Regions from separate parts of the Homo sapiens genome. Here regions 1, 2, 3, 5 and 6 are each reported to be linked to region 4. The links are microRNA targets in miRTarBase. Many come from high-throughput screens and were not tested one by one. Region 4 holds a microRNA gene; each other region holds the end of a gene's coding sequence.
Evidence for each region. Region 4 holds the annotated microRNA hsa-miR-301a-3p (CAGUGCAAUAGUAUUGUCAAAGC, at 2,306-2,328, shown strand). A microRNA usually pairs through its seed, bases 2 to 8, with sites in the 3' UTR of a target mRNA and lowers its output. Matches are read on the target gene's strand: a 7mer-m8 pairs with bases 2 to 8, a 7mer-A1 pairs with bases 2 to 7 and ends in A, and an 8mer does both.

Region 1: the mRNA of SLC10A3 is a reported target of hsa-miR-301a-3p. Seed matches in the 3' UTR shown: 7mer-A1 at 4,188-4,194.
Region 2: the mRNA of GPR75 is a reported target of hsa-miR-301a-3p. The part of its 3' UTR that is shown has no 7-base or 8-base seed match.
Region 3: the mRNA of IFNLR1 is a reported target of hsa-miR-301a-3p. Seed matches in the 3' UTR shown: 7mer-m8 at 684-690.
Region 5: miRTarBase lists SPART as a target of hsa-miR-301a-3p. Seed matches in the 3' UTR shown: 8mer at 1,694-1,701.
Region 6: miRTarBase lists RAB14 as a target of hsa-miR-301a-3p. Seed matches in the 3' UTR shown: 7mer-m8 at 2,792-2,798.

What each region holds. Positions count from the first base shown.
Region 1 is chrX:154,483,257-154,488,496 of GRCh38, forward strand. SLC10A3 (solute carrier family 10 member 3) reads right to left here. Exons shown (of 2, transcript NM_019848.5): 2 at 4,055-5,240. The coding sequence ends at 4,251. It overlaps UBL4A (ubiquitin like 4A), which reads right to left and starts at 3,359. Exons shown (of 4, transcript NM_014235.5): 1 at 3,281-3,359; 2 at 2,972-3,077; 3 at 2,515-2,723; 4 at 461-2,393. The coding sequence starts at 3,328. The coding sequence ends at 2,283. RefSeq lists enhancers at 2,048-2,806, 2,807-3,565, 3,903-3,962 and silencers at 2,743-2,892, 3,383-3,642.
Region 2 is chr2:53,848,665-53,853,904 of GRCh38, reverse strand. GPR75 (G protein-coupled receptor 75) reads left to right here. Exons shown (of 2, transcript NM_006794.4): 2 at 1-993. The coding sequence ends at 771. The region is part of intron 1 of GPR75-ASB3 (GPR75-ASB3 readthrough); the gene reads left to right. MIR3682 (microRNA 3682) reads left to right here and starts at 4,700; the gene lies at 4,700-4,783.
Region 3 is chr1:24,152,496-24,157,700 of GRCh38, reverse strand. IFNLR1 (interferon lambda receptor 1) reads left to right here. Exons shown (of 7, transcript NM_170743.4): 7 at 1-3,533. The coding sequence ends at 571. It overlaps LOC124903879 (a long non-coding RNA gene), which reads right to left. Exons shown (of 3, transcript XR_007065544.1): 2 at 2,509-2,689; 3 at 1-446. Among named protein-coding and RNA genes, the nearest start is that of IL22RA1, 12 kb to the right of the region's middle. RefSeq lists enhancers at 3,011-3,608, 3,609-4,206, 4,207-4,804.
Region 4 is chr17:59,149,477-59,153,476 of GRCh38, reverse strand. It overlaps MIR301A (microRNA 301a), which reads left to right and starts at 2,256; the gene lies at 2,256-2,341. All of the region lies in intron 1 of SKA2 (spindle and kinetochore associated complex subunit 2), which reads left to right. RefSeq lists a silencer at 3,298-3,377.
Region 5 is chr13:36,300,382-36,305,621 of GRCh38, reverse strand. SPART (spartin) reads left to right here. Exons shown (of 9, transcript NM_015087.5): 9 at 990-3,984. The coding sequence ends at 1,257. Among named protein-coding and RNA genes, the nearest start is that of CCDC169-SOHLH2, 5.2 kb to the right of the region's middle.
Region 6 is chr9:121,178,040-121,183,249 of GRCh38, reverse strand. RAB14 (RAB14, member RAS oncogene family) reads left to right here. Exons shown (of 8, transcript NM_016322.4): 7 at 290-320; 8 at 1,677-5,117. The coding sequence ends at 1,854. Among named protein-coding and RNA genes, the nearest start is that of RAB14, 21 kb to the left of the region's middle.

The sequences.
Region 1 (5,240 bases), not on the chromosome of region 4:
GCGCAGCACCTGCAGTAAACATTCTGACCCCTGTTAAAGGATCTCAGCATTGGGGGGGCTGCAGCCTGTGGCTGCTCCATCTTCATGCAGAATCCCCAGTGTCCTCTAACGATCCCCCCACTTCCTGTCTCCCATCCCTGCAGTGTTTCCTCTCTCTGGTGCTTTCCCTAACCCAAGCCTCAGAAAACGCTTTCCCTGTGTGATCTTGACGCCTCCAGCCCTCTCCTCCACTACCTGCGAGGTGGCCCTGATCTGACACATGCATGGCCCCTGTAGTGGACAGCTGCCATTTGCGGCCACCATTGAGGATATCCATTCATCCAGCCCTCCCCCAGAGCCTTCTGTCCCTTGCATAGCCCATGTGTGTCCAGGGAAGTGGCCCCATGCCTAGCTCCAGGGAGCCAGCCCTGACGGAGAATTACCCCCTACCCCAGCCAAAATGATTGGACGCACAATCCAGTTCTGACCAACGAGAAGAGTGTTTATTTGCTGGGGGCATCTGAGACAGCAGAGGTGGTACACAGAGAAGATGCTGCTCTGGCAGTGAGGGAGGGATTCCGTGGAAGCTGCAGGCAGCCATCTTTTCATCCTCGGAGGTGGTGGCCTGGGATGTAGCAGATACCAACGCAGAGGGAGGCAGAAGACACTGGGTGAAATTGCTCACCTGCTGCCAATGCCAATACCACTGGACTTTTCACTTTCATAAGCCAAGAAATTTCCGTTAACTGATTAAACAAATTGCCTTTATTGTTAAACCAATGATTGGATATCAGAAACAGCCTAGCTAATATAGCTCCTTTTGGATAAAAGTAGAAGCCTCACATTCACCTTTAATGTTATTTCACTTTTTCCAAAATCAATTTCCTGGCACCACACAAACAAGAACACTGGTAAATGTATCACCTGAACTGCAGGCCACACATGCTCACGAGTGTGTCCCTGCCGTAGGTGGCTTTGAAGCCATATACATGGCTCTCCAGCTCTCGTGGGGGGCCAGGGGCTTCTGTGTGCTCTTCAAAGCCTTCACCCATTGGGCCTCTGTCCATCTTTCCAGCCTGGGGACCCAATATTTGCCCCACAAGGCCCAGGCAGGAGGGCCTCCAGCACGCGCAGCCCTGACCACACTGTGAGCAGCTCACTTGGCAAGGGTGAAGGGCCGGAGTGGCGTCCTCCTGATGTGGCTTCCTTCCAGCCTCTACCACCCCTGGGGGCCTCCTCCAAGGAGCAGGTGGTTAGATGTCCTCTTGTGCCCACACACACGGCAGGGTGGAGGAGGATGAACCGGAACCCAGTCCATGCTTCTGCCCCCACCCTGGCACCCCAAGGTTTCTTCTCAGGCAACAAGGAGCACACAAAGTGAGCCCCTGTACACAGGTGGCTGGGATATGTTCATCTTCCACAGGGAGGCCAGTGCTGGGGATGAGGACAAAGGCCTACGCCCAGTCCCAGCTCTGACACTGCCTTGCTGAGTCACCCATCAGCCCTAACGCTTCCTGGACGAGACAAGCAGATAGGGTGCCCCAGAGAGGAGCTGTGTCACTAAGGGCCAGGACACCCCATCTCTGGGTCACACTTGGCCACGGCTTCATTTTTGGCTTCAGTTTGTTTACTGAACAGAAGGGAGAGGGGCCCTGTGAGACAGAGGACACTGACTCAGGTCGGTGAGTGGCCCTCACTGTATAGAGTCCATGGCTGGGGACCAAGTGGCACTGAGACTCGCCCAAAGTCACATCACAGAGCTGGGGTGCCTTGCTGACTCCCTGGCCCCAATCTGCTTTTCCATTTGTCGAACGCACACTGGCACACTGGCTGCAGCAGCTGCGGGGGTCGGGGGGTTCCAGGGCTGGCTGTCACTTGGCCTCCTGCAGAGGTAAGCTGAGGGCTATGTTGGACCCGCCAGAAGTCAGGTGACAGCTGCTTTCCCTTTCAGGATCGGGAGGGAGTCACCTGAGGGTATATTCTCAGTGGGCTAAACATGACATGCGAGAGCCCAGCTCTCCAAGCGGCCCCTTCCTCCTTCTCACACCAAGGCACTTTCAGAAGCCGCTGGATTCCGACTGGGGCTGTGCCACTTCATCGCCGGTGCCTCTGCTGTGCCGGCTCTCCTCTTCTGAGGGTGTGGAAGCAAACCCAGGTCAAGCTGTGAGGAGTGCCTAGCACCTGGCCAGAGCCAGGTACATGCCAGCTATGATGATGATGAGCCCAACTGCAACAGGAGAACACACTTAGTGCGACATGCAGCGGTAGCCTGGCGTTGGGCACCTCCCCATGCTCCGAGAATTCTATTTGGAGAAGCCCTTCTCCATTGTCTCAGTCACTTCAGGGTGCAGGAAGCGGCTGGCCAACCGTTCGATGTCGTCCAGCGTCAGGCGACTCAGGGACCTCTCGTAATCCTGGGGAGAGAAGGGCAGGAAGATTCAGGGGCTGCCAGTGGTGGGGGGGCATACACTGCAACAGAGGTAGGGGCTGGGAGCAACTGGGCCTGAAGAGGATGCCCAGGGTTACCCTTCTCACCCTCTGTAGCTGTTCCAGGACCCTGCTGGCATCTGCCGCACTGAAGTGGCGGGCCAAGACTTTGGAGATCAGCTGCCAGACCTGCGGGGGTGGGGAGTCGGCCAGCCTCTGGGCCTCGCCTTCTTCTAGTAGCACCTTCTCCAGGGGTTTGACCACTAGGTTGAGCTTGGAGTTGGGCCCGATGCTATAATCCGAGAGTCGTTTCCCATCTGCCAAAGACAGATCGATGGGTTCCTCCTCCTCCACCGCCGTGGGGGTGGCCCGGGGCGCGAGGCCGCCTCGGGCGGCGGGAGCGGAGCGCTGCGGCATCCGGCTGTGAGGCATGCGGCCGCCTCCCTTGGGGTCATGTGGCGCTTGGCGCCCGCACCCCGACCCGACACACGGCTGCTGGCCTCGGCCCGCGCACCCCGGTCCCGCTTCCTGCGGGGCTCCCCGGGCGTCTCCTCTCCCTGGGTACCTGCCAGGGCCTTGCCCTTGAACAGCAGCCGCTGCTGGCGCACTGGGACGTTCAGCTTCTCGGAGACCAGCTGCTTCAGCGTGGACACCAGCTCGTCCTCTGGCACCTGGCCGCGCGGAGGGTGGGAGGCAAGGGTTGAGCCCGCGGCCCCCAGACGGCGAAGCCCACGCGTCCGCCCCCGAGGGCAGCTCTCCCGGCTCCCGGCCCTCGGCCCGGCCGCCCCGTGCCCGCCCTCGGCCCTGCCGGTCCCCCTGCCAGGAGCGGGCGAGAGAGCGCGCCGGACCCGGCGGCCCGGCCCGGGGACCCTACCTGCAGGCTGCACTCGCGGCCCTGCAGCGCCTTCACCGTCAGCTGCATGGCGGTCGCGACGGCGTCCACTCGGGCCGGCGCGCACCCCAACCACCCCCCGCCGCGCGCCGCCGCCCCGGGCGCGCGCTGGAACCGCCCGCCGCCGCCGGAAGCAGCGAGAGGGGCGCGCCCGCCGCCCGCGCTTCCCGGCCCCGCCCTCCTGCCCCGTCCGCGCCCCGGCCCCGCCCCCCGGCCCAATTGCGCCCCGGGAGGAGTCCCCCCGGGGTCCCGCCTAGCATGCGCGCATCGACCGCCCTGGCCGGCGGACCCCTCCCAAAGCAACGACGCGGGGGAGTTGGGAGCAGGAACCAGTCGGGCCAGGTTGGCGTCATCTGGGAGCTGGGACATGGAGAAGGGAGGGCCAGAAGGTACGCTCGCCCCCGCGGACTGCCTGGCCCACCTCACGCGCCAGGACTGCTGGCGGCGCCTGGCCCTGCATACCCACAGACGGCCCGCCCCCGCTCCCTGTCTGGTGGCTTCCTACCTCCTCCTTTCTGGTCTGGCTGCGAAACGCTCCACTGAGCTTGAGAGGGGGCAGGGGGGCTACGCCTCTGCCCTCATCCTCCCACCTCTCCCAGAGTGGGGACACCCCCGGGGAGGGCTGATAGGGAAAGCCTATGCAGGGGTCACCGTGTCACCCAAGCTGGCCCTCCACCCTGGTCCACACTTACCCAGCACACTCTTTCTACCCCCACGCCCAGGCCCCAAAGGGCAAAGAGTAGAAGGGACCCAAGCTTGCTTCTCTCTTTTATTGAAATATATTTTCTGGGCAGCGCCCACCTACCTAACTCAGCATGGCCTCTTTGGCACTGAAAGCTGGAGAATAAAAAATCAGTAAAAAAAATAAGCCTGGATTTTTCTGAGTGCATAGTGCATGAGAACTTTGGTGGAGTGTGGGGGCTGGGGCTGATGAAAGCTTGACCCAGAGGCCTCAGGGAACTGGGAACAGGCTGCTGTAGATGAAGTGGCCAATGACCAAGGCCAGCATCTCGGAGGTGCCGCTCAGCGCCACAATGAAGGGGGCCTGGGAGGCATAGTCAGCTTGAAGGCGGCGGAGGGATAGCTGCAGCATGGCCAAGGCCAGCAGGCTGTTCTGCACCCCTACCTCAATGCTGACCGTCCGCCGCTGGGCCACTGGCAGCTTCAGACACGTGGCTAGGCAGTAGCCCACCAACAGGCCAACCAGGGGCACCGTGATACCCACCAGTACGATGGGTAGCCGGATGCCTGCCAGGATGAAGACCCCCATGCGATAGGCCAGGAAGAGGCCGCCCAGGAGGAGCACAAAGCTGAAGGGCTTGACGACCTGCAGCAGCAGCTGGGAGAACTTGGGGAGCTTGGACTTGATCAGCACGCCCACGGCTATGGGGATGGCAATGAACAGCAGGGTCCCCAGGATCTTGGAGATGGGCACGTGGAGCGTCTCATGGATGCTGAGCAGGCGGCTGTAGATGGCCGAAGACAGAGGCAAGAAGCCAGTGGCAGCCACCGTAGAGAGGAAAGTCATGGAGATGGCCAGGGTGACGTCCCCTCCAAGAAGGAGGCTGAAGAGGTAGCTCCCCCCGCCGCCAGGCGACGAGCAGGTGATGATGAGGCCCAGAGCCAGGGCCTTGGGCAGCATGAAGACCTTGGCCATGAGGAAAGCGTACAAGGGCATGACCAGAAACTGGCCCAGGAGGCCCAGCAGCATGGGCTGGGGGCTCTGCATGAGCCCCTTCAGAACCTCGAGTTCCACTTTGCACCCAAACGAACACTTGTTGACAAAGATAAGAGGCAGGAGCAGGTAGAGGATTGGGTTTTCCGAGAAGTGGGCCAGGTCGGCGCTGAGGGTGGCAGGCGTGTCTTCAGCAGGTGAGACCTTGATGCAGAAGTCTCTCCGCTCCTCAATCAGTGTGGGCGGGGCCTCATGGGCGTCCACGAG
Region 2 (5,240 bases), not on the chromosome of region 4:
ACCCGTGGATATACCAAGAGTCCCAACCAACTGGTCACCCCTGCAGCAAGCCGACTCCAGCTCGTATCAGCCATCAACCTCTCCACTGCCAAGGATTCCAAAGCCGTGGTCACCTGTGTGATCATTGTGCTGTCAGTCCTGGTGTGCTGTCTTCCACTGGGGATTTCCTTGGTACAGGTGGTTCTCTCCAGCAATGGGAGCTTCATTCTTTACCAGTTTGAATTGTTTGGATTTACTCTTATATTTTTCAAGTCAGGATTAAACCCTTTTATATATTCTCGGAACAGTGCAGGGCTGAGAAGGAAAGTGCTCTGGTGCCTCCAATACATAGGCCTGGGTTTTTTCTGCTGCAAACAAAAGACTCGACTTCGAGCCATGGGAAAAGGGAACCTCGAAGTCAACAGAAACAAATCCTCCCATCATGAAACAAACTCTGCCTACATGTTATCTCCAAAGCCACAGAAGAAATTTGTGGACCAGGCTTGTGGCCCAAGTCATTCAAAAGAAAGTATGGTGAGTCCCAAGATCTCTGCTGGACATCAACACTGTGGTCAGAGCAGCTCGACCCCCATCAACACTCGGATTGAACCTTACTACAGCATCTATAACAGCAGCCCTTCCCAGGAGGAGAGCAGCCCATGTAACTTACAGCCAGTAAACTCTTTTGGATTTGCCAATTCATATATTGCCATGCATTATCACACCACTAATGACTTAGTGCAGGAATATGACAGCACTTCAGCCAAGCAGATTCCAGTCCCCTCCGTTTAAAGTCATGGAGGCTATAGGATCTTATGTAAACAGTTTTTGTTTCTGATAGTAATGGACTTTATTCTAACTTGAGATCAGTGGCGGATCAAAACCTACAAGATTCAACTGAAAAGTTGGCAGTTATGGTTTTCTTTCATCTGATGTGTCAGTATCTGTTGATTTGCTTTGTAGTTTGTTGACATCTTAAGATTTGATGTGAAAGTTTTAGATTTTTTACCCTGCTCTTTGCCTCAGTCTTTTGTACCGAGCCTTTAAATAGATGCCAGGAATGAAGCTACTGTGTTAAAGTAGAAAGTCAACCGATTATCATGATTTGAGTCAGTGTTATGTGACTTCAAAATAAGGTATTGACTGGATTTTTTTTAAAGAATGTGAAAATATGATTTTTGCTGAGGTGTTATTTTTATTAATTGAATTGTAAATTTTGATTTTTTGAAGTGTTGAAATCGGGAACACTACACCTTGTTGGTAGCAGGTTGATTTGAATAAATAATATATTGTTAGCTGGGTGCAGTGGCATGCACCTGTAGTCCTAGCTACTTGGGAGGCTGAGGCAGGAGGATCACTTGAGCCCGGGATTATGAGTCCAGCCTGGGCAACACAGCAAGACCCTGTCTCTAAAGGAAATGTATATATTCTTTTTTTTTTTTTTTTTTTTTTTTTTTTTTTGAGACGGAGTTTCACTCTTGTTGCCCAGGCTGGAGTGCAATGGCATGACCTCGGCTCACCGCAACCTCCACCTCCCGGGTTCAAGTGATTCTCCTGTCTCAGCCTCCCAAGTAGCTGGGATTACAGGCGCATGCCACCATGCCCGGCTAATTTTTGTATTTTTATTAGAGACAGGGTTTCTCTGTGTTGGTCAGGCTGGTCTTCAACTCCTGACCTTAGGTGATCCGCCTGCCTCGGCCTCCCAAAGTGCTGGGATTACAGGCATGAGCCACTGTGCTTAGCCAGAAATATATATATTCTTAAGGCAGAAAAGGTGATAACTCTGTCTTTACCAAAAACACTCACACAGGTATTAGGTACTTTTCTTTCATAGGACAGTCAACTAAGAATATAGTATTATGATTATTGCCATTTCTTATTATAGACATGTTTTATGTCAGTTGAGTAGGTTTACAATTCTTTTGAAAAGAAATATATTTGGGCCGGGCATGGTGGCTCACACCTGTAATCCCAGCACTTTGGGAGGCTGAGGCGGGTGGATCACCTGAGGGTCAGGAGTTCGAGACCAGCCTGGCCAACATGATGAAACCCCGTCTCTACTAAAAACACAAAAATTAGCAAGGCATGGTGGCAAGCACCTGTAATCCCAGCTACTCGGGAGGTTGAGGCAAGAGAATCGCTTGAACCTGGGAGACAGGTTGCAGTGAGCTGAGATCGTGCCATTGCACTCCAGCCTGGGTGACAAGAGCGAGATGTCATCTCAAAAAAATGAAAAAAAGAGAAAGAAAGAAAGAAAAGAAATATATTTTTGCTTGTTAAAAGTGAATTATTTATTTATTTATTTTTTTCCTGAGAGGGAGTCTTGCTCTGTTGCCCAGGCTGGAGTGCAGTGGCATGATCTCTGCTCACTGCAACCTGCGCCTCCCGGGCTCAAGTGATTCTCCTGCCTCAGCCTCCTGAGTAGCTGGGATTACAGGCGTGTGCCACCATGCCCAGCTCATTTTTGTATTTTTTAGTAGAGACAGGTCTTGAACTTGTCTTGAACTCCTGACCTCAGGTGATCTGCCTGCCTCGGCCTCCCGAAGTGCTGGGATTACAGGCATGAGCCACCCCAACTGGCCCAAAAGTGAATTGTTTCTGAATGATCTTATTCAAGAAGCCTAGTGAAGAGGACTGCATCTATGGTAGAGGTGCACTGTTCCCAGGAGAGAAGGCACTGCGGTAATCATCTCGGTGTTCTGTGGAAAACAGTGTGGACTCCTGTCATGCATTGGGCAATATTTATTATTGCTTAACAAGGTTTACAGATAAGACTGGGAATGTTTTGATTTATGTTTTCCTTCTGTGTGAGAAGAGTTTACTAACCACCTGACAGTATTCAAGTAACTATTTAGAAATGACTTCTTTTTTGTCTTTATTTATTATTATGGTAGAAAAATTCTCAAGATAATCTATTTTCAAACTAATCATTTTATTTCTCTCCCATTAATCTTAAAGTGGAAATGGGCAGAAAGAAAAAATAGATTTAAGTATTTCTATACCTGAAACTAATTTTACTATATGCTCTGAGATTCCTAGCATAACAACTGTGAACTCATATTTTATTGTAAAAATATTTTCAGTATACAGTTAGTATTTGAACTCACTAGGTTTTTAAATGTTAGACACACAAGATGAGCATCAATATACAACACCTATCTTTATAAATTGTTATATTCAAGAGTTATTATTGCAGATTGGAAGGTACTTTGTTCCTTTGCGTAAAAGTCTTTTTTTTTTTTTGTAGAAACAGAGTCTTACTCTGTCACCCAGGCTAAAGTGCAGTGGCATGATCTCAGATCGCTGCAACCTCCGCTTCCCGGGTTCAAGCGATTGTCTTGCCTCAGCCTCCAGAGTAGCTGGGATTACAGGTGCCCGCCACCACTCCTGGCTAATTTTTGTATTTTTGGTAGAGACAGGGTTTCACCATGATAGCCAGGCTGGTCTTGAATTCCTGGCCTCAAGTAATCCACCCACCTCGGCCTCCCAAAGTGCTAGGATTACAGGCATGAGAAACCACATCCAGCTGAAAGGCATTTAATTTATAGTTTCCTCCCTCAGCTCTCCCCAAATACAGGGGTCATGAGAGGTATAGAGAAGACAGAATAGATATTCAATTAGAACTCTGCTCAACCTTATCTTATAACTGTTACCTTTCAGTATTGATCAGTTATTTCTATTTTTGAGATTTAAATAGGCATAGATTTTCTTTTGTTTTCTTTTTCTTCTAAATTTTTTTCTTGCCACACCCAGGGGCAGCCTCGAATTATTTTGTTTTTAAGTTCACCTTTTAGACTGATTTGCCTACCTACTCCCTCCTTCTTTCCCTTTCTCCCTCCCTCCTTCCCTTTTTCCCTTTTCTTTTTTTTAAGATGGAGTCTCATGCTTGTTGCCCAGGATGGAGTGCGGTGGCACAATCTCGGCTCACTGCAACCTCCGCCTCCCAGGTTCAAGCGATTCTCCTGTGTCAGCCTCCCGAGTAGCTGGGACTACAGGCACGCACCACCACTCCCAGCTAATTTTTGTATTTTTAATAGAGACAAGGTTTCACCAAGTTAGCCAGGCTGGTCTCAAACTTCTGACCTTGTGATCCACCCACCTCGGCCTACCTAAGTACTGGGATTACAGGCGTGAGCCAGTGCACTGGCCTATTATCTCTTTTTAACAAAGAATTAAGAAATCTAATATTCTTTCCCAAGATCGTACAAAGAATTGTGGCAAATTAGGAATTAGATTTTTGTCTTAATTCAAAACCTGGTATTTACCCCAGTGTGCCAAACAGCTTTATAATGAAGACAACATTAATCAAGCATCACATTTTTAAAGGCATATATCTATTTTTTTGGCTATGCAAAAAACCTTGTCTCTATTAAAAATACAAAAATTGGCTAGGCATTTCAAATGTGATACAATAAAATATTAACACAAAAGTAATTTCTATTTATAAAATTTAAAATGGCAGGTTTTCTGTGTGACGTTTGAGTTTGAGATGATTTGACTGGCATGAGGCCCATCATTGGGAGGTAAAAATTACAGCACAAAGAAAACTAAGCAGGTGCATATGAGGTATTGTCTCTTTATGCTCATCAAAAAATAATCTCCAAAAGAAAAGTTAAAAAAATTATTGTTATAAATTGCATGAAATACATAGTGGGCTCGATTCATAGCCCCCGTCCGTATCTATATCTCTATATCTATAGAGACATAACTTCTTTCTTCGTAAGTTATATATGTCTACTTCTACCTGTGTTATCATAATAAAGGTGTCATGATGATACAGGTGGAGGTAGAAATATATAACTTATCTCTTCATAAGGGCTAAAATGAGAACTAAAAGTAATGAGAATTCAGTTGAATATGATTAATTATCAGGATATGTTAATTAGTTCTCTTGATGCTTACTGTGATGCAAAGTATGTGACGTATTTTAAACATTTTATAATAATTGTTCGTATGTTAACCATTAGGCAAGATTTGTATTTCTAATGCTTTTAATGTTCTTTTAAAATAATGTTTGGAAAATAAAAATACTGAAAATCCTAACATTTCTGAACACCAGTTTGCAATATAATGAATTTCCTGTCTGATCATTTTAAAACTATCAGAGCATGGCAATGATCATTTTTGCCCAATGGATAACAATGTGTTGAACCACAGACAGAGAGCTCTTTGCCTTAAGAGATGAAATAACTTGTTTGACTATATATAAATTTTTTTTTTTTTTTGTAGAGACGGGGTCTCCCTATGTTGCCCAGGTTGGT
Region 3 (5,205 bases), not on the chromosome of region 4:
GGAGGACACAGAAGATGGCGTCAGCTTCCAGCCCTACATTGAACCACCTTCTTTCCTGGGGCAAGAGCACCAGGCTCCAGGGCACTCGGAGGCTGGTGGGGTGGACTCAGGGAGGCCCAGGGCTCCTCTGGTCCCAAGCGAAGGCTCCTCTGCTTGGGATTCTTCAGACAGAAGCTGGGCCAGCACTGTGGACTCCTCCTGGGACAGGGCTGGGTCCTCTGGCTATTTGGCTGAGAAGGGGCCAGGCCAAGGGCCGGGTGGGGATGGGCACCAAGAATCTCTCCCACCACCTGAATTCTCCAAGGACTCGGGTTTCCTGGAAGAGCTCCCAGAAGATAACCTCTCCTCCTGGGCCACCTGGGGCACCTTACCACCGGAGCCGAATCTGGTCCCTGGGGGACCCCCAGTTTCTCTTCAGACACTGACCTTCTGCTGGGAAAGCAGCCCTGAGGAGGAAGAGGAGGCGAGGGAATCAGAAATTGAGGACAGCGATGCGGGCAGCTGGGGGGCTGAGAGCACCCAGAGGACCGAGGACAGGGGCCGGACATTGGGGCATTACATGGCCAGGTGAGCTGTCCCCCGACATCCCACCGAATCTGATGCTGCTGCTGCCTTTGCAAGGACTACTGGGCTTCCCAAGAAACTCAAGAGCCTCCGTACCTCCCCTGGGCGGCGGAGGGGCATTGCACTTCCGGGAAGTCCACCTAGCGGCTGTTTGCCTGTCGGGCTGAGCAACAAGATGCCCCTCCCTCCTGTGACCCGCCCTCTTTAGGCTGAGCTATAAGAGGGGTGGACACAGGGTGGGCTGAGGTCAGAGGTTGGTGGGGTGTCATCACCCCCATTGTCCCTAGGGTGACAGGCCAGGGGGAAAAATTATCCCCGGACAACATGAAACAGGTGAGGTCAGGTCACTGCGGACATCAAGGGCGGACACCACCAAGGGGCCCTCTGGAACTTGAGACCACTGGAGGCACACCTGCTATACCTCATGCCTTTCCCAGCAGCCACTGAACTCCCCCATCCCAGGGCTCAGCCTCCTGATTCATGGGTCCCCTAGTTAGGCCCAGATAAAAATCCAGTTGGCTGAGGGTTTTGGATGGGAAGGGAAGGGTGGCTGTCCTCAAATCCTGGTCTTTGGAGTCATGGCACTGTACGGTTTTAGTGTCAGACAGACCGGGGTTCAAATCCCAGCTCTGCTGTTCACTGGTTGTATGATCTTGGGGAAGACATCTTCCTTCTCTGCCTCGGCTTCCTCATCTGCAGCTACGCCTGGGTGTGGTGAGGGTTCTAGGGGATCTCAGATGTGTGTAGCACGGAGCCTGCTGTGTCCTGGGTGCTCTCTACGTGGTGGCCGGTAGAATTCTCCATCTATCCAGGCTCCAGGAGACCCCTGGGCATCTCCCACCTGTGGCCCCTAAACCCAGAGTGACTGAGAGCACTTAACATTCAGCTTGTCTCATCCCCAGTCTACCTCCTTCCTTCTACCCTCACTGCCTCCCAGTCAGGAGAGTGAGCTCTCAGAAGCCAGAGCCCCACCCAAGGGGACCCTGGTCTCTCCGCCTTCACCTAGCAATGGGAACCCTGCTTCCCAGGGGAGGAACCAACTGCTCCACCTTCTAGGGACCCAGTTTGTTGGAGTAGGACAGTAACATGGCAGGAATCGGACTTCTGGGCCTGTAATCCCAGTTTGGATGGCACGTTAGACTCTTGGTTGACCGTTGTGGTCCTTAGAAGTCCCATTCTCCCTTCCAGTTATGAGAAACCAATGCCTTCTAGATTCAGGTGACTATCCTTACCTGGGGGTGCTGATGCATCCTCAGTTAACCTACACCCACCTGAATATAGATGAGCGTAGCTGAGTTTTCACCCGTAGGACCGAAGTGTTTTGTGGTGGAGTATCTGAACAACCTTGGCTCTGTGGCCATTCAACCTGCCAGGACTAACATTTCTGGATTTGTGAAGAAGGGATCTTCAAAGCCATTGAACCCACAGAGCTGTGTTGCTTTAAAGCCACCACAAGGGTACAGCATTAAATGGCAGAACTGGAAAAGCTTCTTAGGGCATCTCATCCAGGGATTCTCAAACCATGTCCCCCAGAGGCCTTGGGCTGCAGTTGCAGGGGGCGCCATGGGGCTATAGGAGCCTCCCACTTTCACCAGAGCAGCCTCACTGTGCCCTGATTCACACACTGTGGCTTTCCACGTGAGGTTTTGTTTAGAGGGATCCACTACTCAAGAAAAAGTTAGCAAACCACTCCTTTTGTTGCAAAGGAGCTGAGGTCAAGGGTGGCAAAGGCACTTGTCCAAGGTCGCCCAGCAGTGCTGCTCTGATGACTTGTGCACATCCCCAAGGGTAAGAGCTTCGATCTCTGCACAGCCGGGCCAACCTCTGACCCCTTGTCCATGTCAGTAAAATATGAAGGTCACAGCCAGGATTTCTAAGGGTCAGGAGGCCTTCACCGCTGCTGGGGCACACACACACACATGCATACACACATACGACACACACCTGTGTCTCCCCAGGGGTTTTCCCTGCAGTGAGGCTTGTCCAGATGATTGAGCCCAGGAGAGGAAGAACAAACAAACTACGGAGCTGGGGAGGGCTGTGGCTTGGGGCCAGCTCCCAGGGAAATTCCCAGACCTGTACCGATGTTCTCTCTGGCACCAGCCGAGCTGCTTCGTGGAGGTAACTTCAAAAAAGTAAAAGCTATCATCAGCATCATCTTAGACTTGTATGAAATAACCACTCCGTTTCTATTCTTAAACCTTACCATTTTTGTTTTGTTTTGTTTTTTTGAGTCGGAGTTTTGTTCTTTTTGCCTAGGCTGGAGTGCAGTGGTACAATCTCGGCTCACTGCAACCTCCACCTCCCGGGTTCAAGTGATTCTCCTGCCTCAGCCTCCCAAGTAGCTGGGATTACAGGCACCCGCCACCACACCTGGCTAATTTTTTTGTATTTTTAGTAGAGACGGGGTTTCACCATGTTGGCCAGGCTGGTCTCGAACTCCTGACCTCAGGTGATCCGCCCGCCTCGGCCTCCCAAAGTGCTGGGATTACAGGCGTGAGCCACCGCGCCCAGCCAAACCTTACTATTTTTTTAAAGAATTTTTTCCAGAGTTTAATTTCTGACATAGCTTAAGTTTTCCAGTAACTCTAAACTCCATCTCCTTTATCGTCATTAAGTCATTCACAAAAAGCCAGGAGAAGCATTTGGAAAGGGCATGATAATCAGTATAATAATTTGCCTTGTGTGGTCAGCACTTAACTGTTTACAAAGCCCTTTCACGTGCACAGCAGGTGGGAACTGCGCGGTGTGGGCTGGGCCTGCGCTGGAAGCATATCCCGTGAAAAGTGTTAGTGCCTTAGGTGAAAGCAACATGTATCCCTTTAGACTACTAACGGTATATGTTGTTCTTATGTATTTGTATTTATTTCTATTTTTTCTATGTTTATGTCATATTTAAACGATATCCTACTGCTTGTTGGTATTACCCTAAACTGTTTAAATAAAGAGCTCTATTTTTAAAGAAAAAAGGTACAATTGAATGGAAAAGCGTATGCTCTTATCTTTTTTTTTTTGAGACAGGATCTCACTCTGTCATGCACGCATGCCCCACCAGGCCTGGTTAATTTTTTTGTTTTTGTAGAGATGGAATCTCCTATGTTGCCCAGGCTGGTCTCAAACTCCTGGGCTCAAGCAATCCTTCCCGCCTCGGCCTCCCAAAGTGTTGGTTGGGATTATAGGTGTGAGTGACCGTTTCTGGCCTATGCTCTTATTTTTCAAAGGCTCCTCACCTCTCCTCTGGGAAACCTAGCTGTTAAGGCTACAAGGGTCAGCCAGGCAGGGTGGCTGATACCTGTAATCCCAGCACTTTGGGAGGCCGAGGCGGGCAGATCACGAGGTCAGGAGATCGAGACCGTCCTGGCTAACATGGTGAAACCCTGTCTCTACTAAAAATACAAAAAATTAGCCGAGGGTGGTGGCGGGCGACTGTAGTCCCAGCTACTTGGGAGGCTGAAGCAGGAGAATGGCATGAACCCGGGAGGTGGAGCTTGCAGTGAGCCAAGATCACACCACTGCACTCCACCCTGGGCAACAGAGCCAGACTCAGTCTCAGAAAAAAAAAAAAAAAAGACTACAAGGGTCTTGAGTCGGGTCCCCAGAAGCAAACCCAGAGAAAAGGTAGAAAGGTAGAAAGCAGTGCAGTGATCCAGGTAACGCCAGGAGGGGAGTGTGGAGGCAAGATGGGGCGGAGGGTAGGGGAGGAGGGGAGTGTGGAGGCAAGATGGGGAGGAGGGTAGGGGAGGAGGGCAGCCAGGCAAAGTGTGTCATCAACAGGTCCCTGCTGTGGGCAGCTGGACCTCAGTGCCCCTGGAGAGCTCTGGAAGTCAATGTAGGATGCAATTCAGATTTGGTCCCACTGCCAGGGGCAGGAGCCAGGGAGTCTAGCTACTCCCTCCCATCAGTCCAGTGTGGAGGCCGTTCCCTGAGGCAGAGTTGCAGGTACTTGCAGTTGGAATCCACCAAGCTGAGTGCACAAGAAAGGGGAGTGCCATGGGGCTGAGGGCAGGGTCCCCAGCCAATATCCCTTGTTGTAGTGAGGCTGGAGCTGACAGCTCACCCAGCTGCAACTATGGTCCATGGAAGGATATGGAACAGCACCTGTGCGCCTAGCTTTGCATTGCCAAACTCATTCCAGCAGCTCTCCATTAGCAAGGGTCTCCCAGTTTCCAACAACTCTCTCAAGGCCACCTGGTGACTGTCTTAGCACTGTGCCCGCAGTTGTCACCTCTTATTGGTGCCAGGGCAGGCGCTAGACCCAAGCCTAGCTGATCTGACAAGTCCCTCTCCCTGGAATTCAGTAGTCTCCCTGGCTGGCTGGGCCTGGAGCAGGTACCTTCCAATCTGCCATGGCCACATTTCCCAGTCTGAGGAACAGTCTGCAGACAAGACAAGAAAGCAGCCACTGCCACGTGGGCTGCCGAGACAAGAAACGGCAACCCCTGCTTCTGGTCCCTTCCCCCAGGTGCAGCTGCACCCCAGCCTCGACTTCATCCCACTTTTAAAAATATTTTTTTCTAGATAGACAGAGTCTCTCTCTGTCACCCAGGCTAGAGTGCAGTGGCGTGATCTCAGCATCTCAGCTCACTGCAACCTCCACCCCCCAGGTTCAAGTGATTCTTGTGCCTCAGCCACCCAAGAAGC
Region 4 (4,000 bases):
AGCATTTTGTGTTTAAATTTTCTTTGTGCAGTGTGTGTGGGGTTGGAGAAGTGTAGGGAGAAATGGGAGGGAAGAAGGAAGAATTTCCTGCAGATTTTCAAACCTGTAATAATGAACTTTTAGTTTTAAGTTTTATTATCATTTAAAAAAAACAAAATGTTAAGCATTGTAATTTGATTCTGTCAACAGGCTTAAATGTTAAGACTATCTTGCCCTTCTCCCATTCTGAATTCCTCCCTACTGATATAGATATTTCTGCTTAAATTCATAATTCATTTCTGCTAAATGATGCTAATTCTGCTTTTAACAGGTTGTTTGCTTCTCAAATTGGCTGTTTCTAATTTTTAAACTTCGTCTGGCTTTTACAGTAGAGTCAGTATTCTCACAGGACTTCTTTAGATTGAACAAATTCTCTTTTAAGTGAACAATGATGAAGTAAACATTTTGAAAAAGTAGGTTTTAGAAAATTATAAGGTAGCCAGACATTTAAACTTTTAGGTATTGTTTGAATGATGGGGTAGTATTTAAATTCTTTTTGAAGACAGGAAAAAAAGAAATGAGGTTTTTTTCCTTTCTTACATCCTTGCAAGTAAATTAGTGGTAGCTTTTTTTTTTTTCCTTTCAGGTTATTAGTTTGTTTCCATAATTATTAGGGTTTAGAAATGAATTTTTATCATGGCTCTAATTATTACTGCTTTGTGTTGACTAGATAATAAAAGACAGTGCATCTCATCTTCAGATTTACCATGTGCTTCTAGAAAAAAATGTTATACTTGTGGACCAGTTTATTTTATAAGATTTTAAGAGTAAATGATTCCTGTGCTATCTTCTGATTTTTGGTTTTACATCAGTTAAATAAAGGATTTGTCAAGGTAAAAGGAAATGCATAATATTTAATTTGAAAAGAAAGTGTTTATCCTAATTTTGTTAATACCTTAAATTTTTTAAATATTTTTCTTGTTTGTAATAACTTCCAATTCAGAAAGTTAAACACTTATCTTTTAAACAGTTGTCTTTAAAACCTGAAACTTGGCTACCAGCGTTAAATATTCTAATATTTTAGTTATGTGGCCCAGGATTTGACACCAAGACACTTATATTTCAGCTGTCCTTTGTATGAGCCCATTTCCTTAGTAGGCTCAATCCGACTAAGTAGTTGAATTGGACCGTTTAAAGGGAGGTTGGTGAAAATAATGAAAATATATTTTTGCATCAATCAACATTACTAATGGGGGAATAAGCTTATTGTAGGGCAATCTTTGTTCTCTGACTTTTTCCCCTTCACTTAATGATGGGGTGGTATTTGTTTAGCTTTGTTCTTTCGTGGTACTACTAGTGACTGTACACAAAAGGTAATGCAGTGTGATACTATGATACTATTTCTGTTTCTGGGTTTACATCTGACTTCTGATTGGGTTCTTATCCGTTAAAAAAGTTAAAATGTCAATTAGCTTGGAACTAAGGAAACTTGTTACTTAAATCTCAGTCCCACCTCCCCCCATCATTATTTTCTCTTTGACATTTCTAAGTTTGAAGGAAATGGAGATGCTTTCTGCCTCTATTTAAGATTTCAGGAGTTAACTGAAATTTTAAAATCCCCTTGGATAGTATTCAGTTAGATAGGGTTAATGTTCTGTTTAGAGCACATTGATTCCCTTCTGTTGTTATGACAGCCCTTAGTAAACTCAAGATAAAAAGCTGTAAGATGGTAAGTGCTTTTGTGTTTTCTTTGTTTAGTGGTTTAGATTCCAGAGTGATAGATTGAGTATGTAGAGATTGAGAAACTTATTATTTTACTTTTCATTTGTTTTCTTTGATACTTTTATTCAAAGGGCTTGTTTTACATGGCGTTTAATCAGTAAATTGCCTTGAAGAAGGAGCTAACCAACATCTCTGCAGAGAACAAAAATATTTTTCACAACTTTGCCTTAGTAGTAATTATAACTGGTTTTGTTAATACCAATCCTAAAGTATTAACAATACCCATTCTAATTACTATTAAGGCTTAGGGCATATTTACAAAATTCCTTTCTACATCTATGCATGTTTCTGTTCGAATGTTAATTTGTATATTAGTCATCAATAAGCAACATCACTTTGATATTTAAGTCTTATCCTTTTTTAAAAAAACATTGATATAAATGTTTTTTGGTTTTGGATGTTTTTCTGTCCAAAATGGCAACCCTACTTTAAATTCGTTTCTCACTGAAGCTTCAACCGATGCAAGATGCTTTTGTGTTCCTTTCCTACTTATTACTGCTAACGAATGCTCTGACTTTATTGCACTACTGTACTTTACAGCTAGCAGTGCAATAGTATTGTCAAAGCATCTGAAAGCAGGATGCACGCCAGAATTTTGATTCTTACCTTACATCTTTCTTCGGTATCAGTAAATAATTTACCACAACCTTTGTTGCTGAGAACTATAATGTTGTTACTAACAGTATATCTTTTAGAAAGTCATAATTTGAAAAAAAAAAACCTTTTAACTAATTAAAAACAATATTTTACTGCATTATGAAACACGTCTGGAGAATATTTTTTATATCTAAGTTGTTATGGTTTGTCTAAATGAGTAATACTTTATAATTTGTTGCTTTCTGTTACATATTTGGATAGGTTCTGTCAAACTTTAGGTTTTATTTGAGTTTTATGATGAATTGGTAGTGATGGAAACAATTTCTGCTGTATATTTTTCCTGCAGTTACTTGCCCCAAGTCATTTTTTTTTCTCCAGAGACAGAGTCTTTCTCTGTTGCCCAGGCTGGAGTGCAGTGGCCCAGTTACACCTCACTGCAGCCTTGTACTCCCGGGCTTAGATAATCCTCCCTCCTCAGCCTCCTAAGTAGCTGGGACCACAGGCGTGTCCTACCATGCCTGGCTAATATTTTCTTGAAATTTTTTGTGGAGACAGGGTCTCACTGTGTTGCCGAGGTTGGTCTTGAACTCCTGGGCTCAAACAGTCCTCTTGCCTTGGCCTCCCAGAGTGCTGGGATTATAGGTGTGAGCCACTGTGCCTAGTCCTCCAAATCTTAATTGGTGTTAATTTTGTGTATTGTCTAGGAAATGGTTGAATTTAAAACCTAAGAGTGTTTGTTTTACAGTTTATTCTTATGAGATACAATAGTGTGGATTCATCACTTTTAAAAAATATGAATTTTATTGAGATACAATTATATAAAATAAAAGTAAGTAAGCTATTTGTTAAGCAAAGCCGAAGTCTTGCTGTGTTGCCCAGCTGGAGGGCAGCGACTATTCACAGAGGCAATCATAATGCAGCACAGCCTAGAACTCCTGGCTTCAAGCAATCCTCCCACTTCAGCCTCCTGAGTAGCTTGGACTACAGGGGTGTGGCATGCCCAGTGAACTGACGAGTTTTGACAAATGTATACAGTCATGTAACCACCACCACAGCCAGGATATAGAACATTTCTGTTACTTTACAAAAAGCTCCTTTGTGGCCAGGCATGGTGGTGCACCTGTAGACCTAGCTACTCGGGTGGCTGAGGTGGGAAGATCACTCGAGCCCAGTAGTTCCAGACCAGGCTGAGCAACAGAGTGAGACCCCTACATTCCTTTGTGCCTCTTTGTGGTCAACCTCTTCTTCCCCAAGTCCCTGGCAACCACTGATCTCTAGTTTAACTTTTCCTAGAATTTCATATAAATGGAATCATACATTATACAGTCTTTTGTGTCTGGCTTCTTGCACTTAGCATAATGCTTTGAGATTCATCCATGTTGTATATTAGCAGTTGGACAGTTTTTATTGCTGAGTAGTATTCATTGTATAGAATATCACAAACTCTTTATCCACCAACTTATAGACATCGGGTCATTTCCACGTTTTGCATATTATGAATAAAATGGCTGTGGTTGGTCTCGAATTCTTGAGCTCAAGTGATCCTCCTGTGTTGCCCTCCCAAATGTCTTTGTTTAATTTTTTTTTTAGCAATATTTTTTTCTTTTTCTTTAGAGACAGGGTCTCATACTGTCACCCAGGC
Region 5 (5,240 bases), not on the chromosome of region 4:
TGTATATGCTTTATAATTTCCCAAGCACTTGCTATGCATTTGATGCTCAAAAAACTCTGAGGCAGATAGGGCAGGAATTACTGATTTCATTCATTCAGTGAATATTCATTGAATATCAGGTACTATTCTCAATGTTTAGGATATGTTAAAGGACAAAGGTAAGATTCTCCTCTCCAATAGGGTTTACATTCTAGTGAGAGAAGCAAGACATGAACAGTGATAATTAATAAGTTCTATAGTATGTAGAAAGTGGTAAGTAATGGGAGAAAAAAAGCAGTGTAAAGGGGAATCGATTGTCAAGAGGTGGAGGTGGGCATGTGGAAAAAGGCAATTTAAACAGGTTAGATAATGAGATTATAGTTGAGCCAACTTGAAGAAGGTGAGGCAGAGAGCTATGGGAAGTCCAAGCAGAGAGCAGCCAGTACAAAGGTCCTAAGGCCTTTGAGTGCTTGGTGGGCTCAAGGAACAGCAAGGAGGCCAGTGAGTGTGCAGTAGAGTGGGATGCAGGGGAGAATGCCATAGAATCTCTGTTTAAAGATTAACTCAAATTCCCATAATTAAAAGACATAGCCAAAGTCTGGTTAAGGTAGAACTTGAAACTACTTACGTGACTCTAGATTAGTTGCTTCTGTGAATATTTTCCCTCATATTTCTAGAAAGGGAGGATTAAAAAAAGAAATAATGACTGATTAATGACCTGTATTATAATTTACACTTTTATTTTTACTTGACAGTCTTTATTACATCATTCTCAGCTAGTCTGAGTTTATTTTCACACACTGTTTTTACTAAAGGAGAAAATACTGCTTTGTCACAGAGTGTGATTTCATTCTCTACTGTGTTTTAAGTTATTAATTAAATTGAAACCTAAGCTTTAATTTTGCTTTCAGGGGTAACACAGTAATCATTTGACTTATTTAATACTAATTCAGAAGACCTTATTTTATATTTATTGTTTCATTGTATGTCCTCTAATCTTTCTTTTAAAGATACGGATATAATGCAGGAGAAGCTACCCACCATGCGGTGGATTCTGCGGTCAATGTTGGCGTAACTGCCTACAATATTAACAACATTGGTATCAAAGCAATGGTGAAGAAAACTGCAACACAAACAGGACACACTCTCCTTGAGGACTATCAGATAGTTGATAATTCTCAGAGGGAAAATCAAGAAGGAGCAGCAAATGTCAACGTGAGAGGGGAGAAGGATGAGCAGACGAAGGAAGTAAAGGAGGCAAAGAAGAAAGATAAATGATGAAGTGCTGGGAATCACTTATACCAAAGCCTTATGAAATGGATGAAATTTTGTTAAATAGGCAAATGTGGAATTCCTCACAGATTAACCAGTATTTTTTAAATGTATTCATTCCTACAAATTAACTTTCATAAATTTTATGGCATGTCTTCTATTTAAAAGGAAAAGAATAAGTATTCTTGCATCTGGCCTTAGAAATGTGAAGTTATATTCTCAAGTTTATTTTTTTCCAAGTGTAGCTAAAATATTTTTGCAGGTAAAATAAAGCTGATAGTACATGTGTTGTTCAAACCTTGTTAAACCTAATATTGAACTATTTTTATATCTGCTGTCTTTCAGAAGGCAAATAGGAAACTATATATTTGCTTAAAAATTGGCATTTAGTAACCTTAATTCTTTTTATAGAAGGAATGACTTAAAGTATTGTCCCCTCTTTTTGCACTAATTGTGGATTTTTTTAGATGCTTCTCAAAATTTTCAGTGTGTAAGCTAAACAAAAACTAAAACTAAGAATTCTCAAAAAAACTTGTTCAAAACAGGGAAAGACTGATGAAAAGTAAAATGGACTACTTTTGTAACTTACCTGTTTGTTAGGAAATGGAATGGTCTCTTTGATTTAAAATAAATAAAAATAGATTATTACGTCTTTTGTATTGAGACTGTATTGTTATGAGCCTAGGAAATTTGGGAACATGATTGTATTGTATTAAAATTCGAAGTGATTATTATCAGCTTAATTGGATTAAAAAAGTACTTCAAGAAATTATTTTATCATATCTGCTTCTGTTTTTCCAAAAGGTTAAAACTTGTAAAAAAAATATATATAAACAATTGAGTTTACTAATGGTAAACATTTTTATTCTGGGATTCGGTCATTGGAATTTATATTAAAAGACAAGTTATTAAAAAGGAAAGGTTCTATTCATAATCAGGGTAAAGAATATGAAAACCTTAGACGTAATCCATGGTGGATAGGCATTATGGTTTCCACTTTGGCAGAAGGCAGACTATTCACAGCCCTATTTACTTACATAGGCTAAAAAACTATGTAACTAAATACCTAATGGTATTTAATTTTTGTTTATTGAATTTAAGAGATTGGTATTAGTTTTCATAGCTGTAGTCCATTCTAATAATTTCTGATCTTCTAGTGGCTACTTAATTAGACATTATTTGAAGCTGTCTGAAGAATGCACTTTATGAATTAAAAAACTGAATTGCCTGACCTCGTTATCACATGAGCTTATATTTTGGGAACACATAGAACTGATGGAGGCTTTTCCTAAGGCCAAGGATAATGTACTAGTTGTTAAAATGGAAATAAAAGTGAAGTGGTAAATAGCTTACAGACAGTCTATGCTTTGTTTAAGAAATGGAATGGCACTTCATATATTCTCATTTGTGGGAGCTAAAAATTACAATAATCAAACTTAAGGAGATAGAGAGTAGAATGATGGTTACCAGAGGCTGGGAGGCATTGAAGGGATGGGGAGGGAAGTGAGGTTGATTAATGGGTACGAAAATATAGTTAGAACGAATTTGTTGTAGTATTTGATAGCCCAACAGGGTGACTACAGTCAACAATAACTTTATACATTTAAAAATAAAAGAGTGTAATTGGGACGTTTGTAACACAAATGAATGCTTGAAGCAGTAGATACACCCTGATGTAATTATTATAAATCGCATACCTGTATCAAAATATCTCATGTATCCCATAAATATATACACCTACCATGTACCCATAAAAATTTAAAAAGAAATGGAATGGCAAATAATGGAACATAAACTTTAAACAGTTAGCTTTGACCAGAGGTCAGCAAATATCCTCCATGGGCTAAATCCAGATGTCCACCTGTTTTCATAAATAACGTTTTATTGGAGCATAGCTGTACCCATTTGTTTACATATTGGCTATGGCTGCTGTCTAGTTCAACGTGAGAGTTGAATAGTTGCATCAGAGAGTATATGGTCCACAAGCCTAACTTATTCACTCTCTGGCCCTTTGCAGAAAAAGTGTGCTGCCTTAGTCTATAGAAAATGGACTTTTCCCACCATTCACTGACTCATTAGGAGATAGGCATCTTCTAAAGATTTTTTTTATATTGTGTAATGATTGATATATAGATAAAATTATATATTACTTGTAAGGTATGATGAATAACAACACTTAAAAACTCATCACACCTAAAGACATGGAAAGCTGCCAATTACCTATATGTATGTTCTTCCTATTTTCTTACCTCTTTCCCCATGTCATTTTTTATTGTTCCTTGCCATTTTTTAATCACACATGTATGTTCTCCAAACATACTGTTTCATTTTTTGAAGCTTTCTACATATAGTGTCTGAATGTGAAGTCTTACTCAACTTGCTTTTTTGAGTTTATGTTTAAAATTCATTCTTGCGCTTATATGCATGGATGGTTTACTTGCTCTATAGTATTCTGTGTGAGTATACCACAATTTAAGTGTTCATTTTCCTATCAGTTGACATTTGTTTTTAGTTTTTGTTGGTAGAAACAGTACACTCAAAACATCCTTGACTGTCCCCTGGTACACATATGCAAGAGACTTTATGCGTAAGAGTGGAGTTGTTGGCTTGTCAAGTTTTGCAAAATAATGCCAGGTATTTTCCAAAATGATGATATTCTCTTGAGTATTACTTCCCTTTGCAATGTTTTTATTGTTAATGTAGCATATATAAAAAAGTATCTCATAATTTTAATTTGTGTTTTCTTGACCTCCTTTCCTGACCTTAGATCAGTAATTTTTCATGTTCATTTGCCATTCATTTGCCTGTGCTGTAAAATTTGCGTGTTGTCACTGCTGACAATTTTGCTTCTCATGTTTAGGTGTTTACTGAGAATTGTGTATATGTGTGCAAGAGGTAAGGTATCTAATTCCTCCCCTCCTCCCCCACCCCGTAGATAATCAGTTATTTAACCCCCATTTATTGAATAGTTCTTTTCTTCAGTAATTTCCCACAGGTCTTTCTCTATATATAGAGTATGAGTGTTTCTGGGCTCAGACGTTTGTTCCATCTGTCATTTCTTTTGTTCCTGTGCCAGTCCCACACTGTCATCATTGTAAATTAGTAAGCCCTACTGATTGTTAGGGCAAGAGGCTCAATTCCCTCAACCAAATTCTTTAGGAGTATTTTGGCTGATTAAACAAGTTCCATAAGGAGTTTAAAATCTTCCCACAAAGAAACATCAGCCCCAGATGGACTTACAGGTGAGTTCTAACATACCCTAAGAAAATAATGTTACCTTGGGTGCAGAGGTGCACACCTGTAATCCCAACACTTTGGGAGGCTGAGGTTGGGTGGATCTCTCGAGTCGAGGAGTTTGAGACCAGCCTGGGCAACATAACGAGACTAAAGATATTGTTGGACATTGTGAATTTTACCTTATTGGGTACTGGATGTTTTGTGTTCCTATAAATATTCTCGAGTTTTGTCTTGGGAGGGGATTAAGTTACTTAGAACCAGTTGGATACTTTTGGATCTTTCTTTTCAACTTGTTAGGGCTAGTGTTTTTTCCGACTCCTAAATCAAAATCCTTTGTGTACCTGATGCCCTGTGAATTCAGAGGTTTTCCATTCTGGTGGGTGGTAGCAGGTATTATTCCTACCTCTGTAAACTGTAAGGATTTCCCCTCTAATCCTTTGTGATGGTTCTTTCCCCAGCCTGAGTACTTGCCCCACCATGTGTGTGCATTCATCAGTATTCTGCTGCAGAGTGTACCTTGTGGCAGGCCAGGTCTCATTAACACAGGCCTCCATAACAACTGTTTCAGTACTGACTTGAGTGGCTAAGTTAAATACTAAAAGCTAAAAAAACCAAAGCCCTTATACAAAGGCTGGAATGTAATAAAAACCCACCAAGAACTAGGTCTCAAAGCATGACAAAAAAAAAAAAAAAAAAAAAGAAGGAATTCTTAGCTGGACCCATTTAGGATTAAACAAGTTTTTTGGGGTTCT
Region 6 (5,210 bases), not on the chromosome of region 4:
ACAGTTTTGTTGGTTTTTTTTTGCATTTTTTTTTTAAATGCAGACTCAGAAATCTCAAGAATGAGGAAGTAACAATGTGTTTCTATTTCTGTGTGATTTATGTTGGAGCAGTACAGTTATTTAGTGACAAATATAAAGATGCTCTCCACCTCAAACTTACATACTTTTTCATAAAATACTATGGGAGGAGTACTAAAAACTGATGGGAAACTTTTTCAGATGTTACTAAAGAAGTGCACTTGTGAGTTAGTTTGAAGTGTCCTAATTATAGTCTGAATTTTATTTTTAGGCTTATTGTTCCTCGAAGCGAGTGCAAAAACGTAAGTGTGACCAAAATACAGATATTTCAATTATATTCAAGTTTCTCAAAGTAGAACCGTATATATGAAAAGTATATAATGTATATACACATATAAAGTACTATCTATAAATGTGTAATGCTTACTGCAGGAAGAACAGCAAACATCTCTTTGCTTCCTTTTTTACATTTCAAAATAATATGAATTTTTGTTACTTAAAAGATTGTACCTTGATTATGCCTGTTGGTAACCCAGGTTAATAAATGAAACTTTGTTTACATTTCAAAAGTGTTTGACTTTTCCCAAATGACAGTGTTTGACTTTTCACAAGTGAGGTTGAGTTTGGCATCTCAGACAAGCTTGGTCAATCTGTTCTTCCTGTAATACTTCTGATCACATTAAAAAGCATGATTTAAGGGAATAGTGTCTACTCAGAAGCATAGTGAACATTTTCTAATTGTTCTTCCATGTCTGCTATTGAACTGTGGTACACCCATCATTGTTCTTCATTTATTAGGCCAAAAATTTCTTGTGGTGAGGAGAGGCTAACCTGTTTTCGTTTAGTCTCAGCTGTGCTATTAGTCCAAAGAAAACTGAATGGAGGTGTTAACGTGGCTAAGCATGATTATGTCACCATTACCCGATTAAAAACAGCTCAGTTCATGCTTGGCTGAGCAGACCATATTATTCTTGGAATTTTTTTCAGCATGTTCAGAGAGATTTCATTTCTGTTTGGAGTATCCTCTCTGTTATCACAGAAATGACCTATCTGAATTGTCATGGTGTGTATTAACATACAGTATTTTAATGATTGCATATAACACATGTAGTTGTCCAAATAGGGTTTGTAGAAAGGGCTTTCAGTACACGTATGTATGTATGCTTTCCATAGAAAGTAGTTTTCCGGCCGGGTGTGGTGGCTCATACCTGTAATCCCAGCACTTTGGGAAGCCAAGGCAGGCGGATCACGAGGTCAGGAGATCGAGACCACCCTGGCCAACATGGTGAAACCCTGTCTTTACTAAAAATACAAAAATTAGCTGGGCGTGGTGGTGTGCTCCTGTAGTCCCAGCTACTCGGGAGGCTGAAGCAGGAGAATCGCTTGAACTTGGGAGGTGGAGGTTGCAGTGAGCTGAGATCGGGCCACTGCACTCCAGCCTGGTGACAGAGTGAGTCTCTGTCTCAAAAAAAAAAAAAAAAAAAAAAGGAAAATAGTTTTCCATGTTCTCTTAGCTCAGTGTTCTGGTAATCTCTTATTAGATGACAGTGGTTAAGTTGGAGACATCATGGCAGTTAACTAAAGATTAGCAAAAGGTCAGTGTCTTGTCTTTTGTAGAAAACTGTGGTTCTCCAATAAAGTTATCAATTGCCTCTTAGGGGAGAGAATGTAGAAGATGCCTTCCTTGAGGCTGCCAAGAAAATCTATCAGAACATTCAGGATGGAAGCTTGGATCTGAATGCTGCTGAGTCTGGTGTACAACACAAACCTTCAGCCCCGCAGGGAGGCCGGCTAACCAGTGAACCCCAACCCCAGAGAGAAGGCTGTGGCTGCTAGTGACCTCTTTGCTGTGGCCCCTCATTTGACCTTTCACCTCTGTCTGTTGGAAGCAGTACTTTTTACTGCCTCATTGTCTTCTGTACATCTTACTGGGTTTAATTAAAAAAAAAGAAAAAACTCTGTTGTAAAAACAGTTTAACACAATACTAAACTGCTAAACAACTAGATGTAATCAGGTTATCAAAGGCAAGTAGAGTAATAAATCTCTCCTGCATGGTAAATCTAGACTTTTTTTCCCCCTTGTCCTCGTGATAAGTATGTCACCAATATATGATTTAAACCGAGCACTGATGCTGGACTTCATGATTTTTACCCTCCCTTTGGCAAGGCTTTGTCTCACTGTACGGTTTAATTTGGTGATATCTTAAGCCTTTCTTCCCATCCTTAACTGTTCAAGTATGTCTGTTGTAACCAATAAGTTTATTGCTGTGAAATTACTTCTGATGGTAGAGAAGGGGTTCTATAACTGCTTTTGTTTTGTTTTGGATAAATTTCCTGTTGTGTGGGTGGCATTTTTCTTAACGAGATTTGCTTCTGTCTTAGCCTCACACAGGGAAAATATCCATTTATCTTCTCTCTCGTGCTTAATTAATAGCTTTATCTTTTTTTATACCATTTTATCCTTTTCTCTTTAACAGAAAGTAAATATGTATAAAATTTGAAGGAATCGAACTAACAATACATTCTGTGTATATTATTTTAATGAAGAAAATAAATTGATTACTGGCATTGGAACAGTATAAAATACCAGTTTGTACAGTATGACCTATATGTGACCATGTTACTCCCTTCCATTTCACACAAAGAAATAGACACAACTGCAGTTCACAAGTAGTACTGGCTCCACCCCTTGGTGCTGGCAGTGTTTGGGGACATTATGCTGGAAAGAGCTCCTAGCATCAGAGGATTAACACTAGCAGATTCTGTTCCATCTTTGCACTGTTGCTTACCTGCTGATTTTCTTAACTGTTCTTGTGCAATCGACAATGTGCTAACCTGCTTTTCTCTTTTTGTAAACGTTTTTGCATTACAGGCTGCATTCTTGCCTTACTGTATAGAAAAAGAAAAAAGGCTGGGTTTACTATTGCACATTTTAAGCTTTTATACCTTTATCTTCTTGGAATGGTCAGATTCTGAACTGGACAGTCAGAACCACAGGTCTGCTGTTAAGGGATTTTAAATTGTGCATTTTTAACCCTACAGTGAAATAACTTAAGATATCCCTGTGTTCACAGTGTGAGGGGCTGTTTTATGTCATGTTGGCATAAATTGTTTTGTAAAAGGGAAAGTGTTTCTAAAGGTGTTTCAGCGCTTGTGCTGATACAAAGTAAGTTATTACTTTGCACCAGGTGGTTTGGCCACTGAATTAATACTGTATAGCAAGAGAAACAATCTTATTTTTTTGGACAACATGTTTTATTAAGTTCTTCATTTCTGTTGATTTTTTTTATTGCATTTATGATTCAGTGGCTGGGAATTGAGAATTTATTTGAAATAGAATAGGTAACACCTCAGCGTACTATAGAAAATGCACTCAGCTCAACTGCTGTGTTTAAAATACACATTTTAAATCCCTCTTTACAGACACTAACATAAAAGTACATCTTTCTGGGTTGTAAACATGTGGTAGTACCAGAGTATTGTATAGTCAATGTTAAATAAAAGCCAAAACTGGAATGTGCAGAAAGTAGGCTTTGGTTAATTTGTGGATTCATTTTTATTTTTGTCTTTGTTTAACTTTTTAAAAAATAAGATTTCTGGAGTAGATTGGTATATTCTGTTAAAGACTTACAGTGATCCATTTTGCTTACACTGTTGCATCACAAGGGACTCACCCAGGGACCATGACCTGCTGGTGTGTGTGTATATTTACAAAAACAAAACAAACAAACCACCCATTGGGATATAAGGTAGCAATCACAAACTAAAGACTGCGGCTTGTTGAGGTGCAATACCCTGACTCCCAAAGTTAGTTACAGTGGGTTTTATTGTTTTTGTGACTGAAGGATTTATTCAGACTGCTGTACTCTTCATTTGATGTAACAAAATGCTATTAATCTAAATATTTGTAAATAAAGTACCTGTATCTAGATTAAATTAAAATTGGTTGCATTATTTTCTGAACTATAATAGGGTTTTTCTTCAGGTGAACAATTTGACGTGTCATCAGTTTTTATTGCAGCACTGTCCATATTCATTGTATAAAGAGAGGTCTACGTATGTAGCATATAAAACCACATCACTAAGTAATAGACCCACAGCTTTATTCTTGTGTTTACATTACCCTTGAAATGTTTTCAGTCAACCCTTTTCAGTGTAAGATCAGCACATTTGGTGGCTGATGCTGTTCTCCTTTGACTGTACCGGGAGCCAGATTCTATCATATGCATGTGTAATCCCCTGTAATACACTCAGGTGCTCACAAATAGAGCAGATTGTCATATTGTAACATGCGTGTGCCAGACACCGGGCAGTACACTTTGGAAAGAATGTGAAATCCTTTTAATTTTTAATCCATAGCTTACTGCTTGTGCAGTCACCTGCCTCTTGAGGTTGCTCATTGCCCTTGGACCTGTGAGGAGGCCTTCAGATTAGTAATTGGTGCTTAGTACTATTTATGCTTAAATAGATCTTCCAGTACAATGTTGAAGTCTTTTTTATGGATAATAACGTGTTTGATGGAGTAACTTATTATTTTTTTTTGGTTGGTGGTTTACACGTTAATAGAGGTAGTACAATTTCTTTGGAAAGGTGTCTTTTGAAGCCAGCTGTTAAGCTTCATACATTACCTCCCTTCTCAAATTCGGTAAGACAGTAGTTTTGGGGAACTTTTTTGCCCATGTGTCTTTTAAGTGTGATTTTAAAAAAATGAGTGGTTCAGTTCATTCCCCTAAACAGAAGAAAAGACCAAATAATTACCTTCCATTCCTCTTCATGTGGGAATATAGAGAGGGTTCATGTGGCATTTTAGAGAAAAGATAATTTATCCTCATTCAACACAGGCCCAGAAAATTGTGTCCCAGAAGGATGTCAGTAATTGTGACTAGGCCAGGCCTTTTAGCATTTTGCTAAGACTTGAAACAAAAAATGTAAATACAAAAGAAATCAAGTTTTGTTTTGAAAGATGCCTTCTAGAACTTACTGTGTATTAATAAATTGTCACTTTCATTGTCTTTATTGTAACTCCATTGATCCCGTATCTTAACGGTTCACGTCTAGCCAAATAACTGTTTTGGAATAAAAACCTTGGTGGTGAGGGATGACTGCACTGTGCTGCTCTGTATTATTAGTAACAGGGTAACATACCTGTTGTGACTCAAAAGCTGTCTAGTAGTGATCTAGAAAAGAGTTCC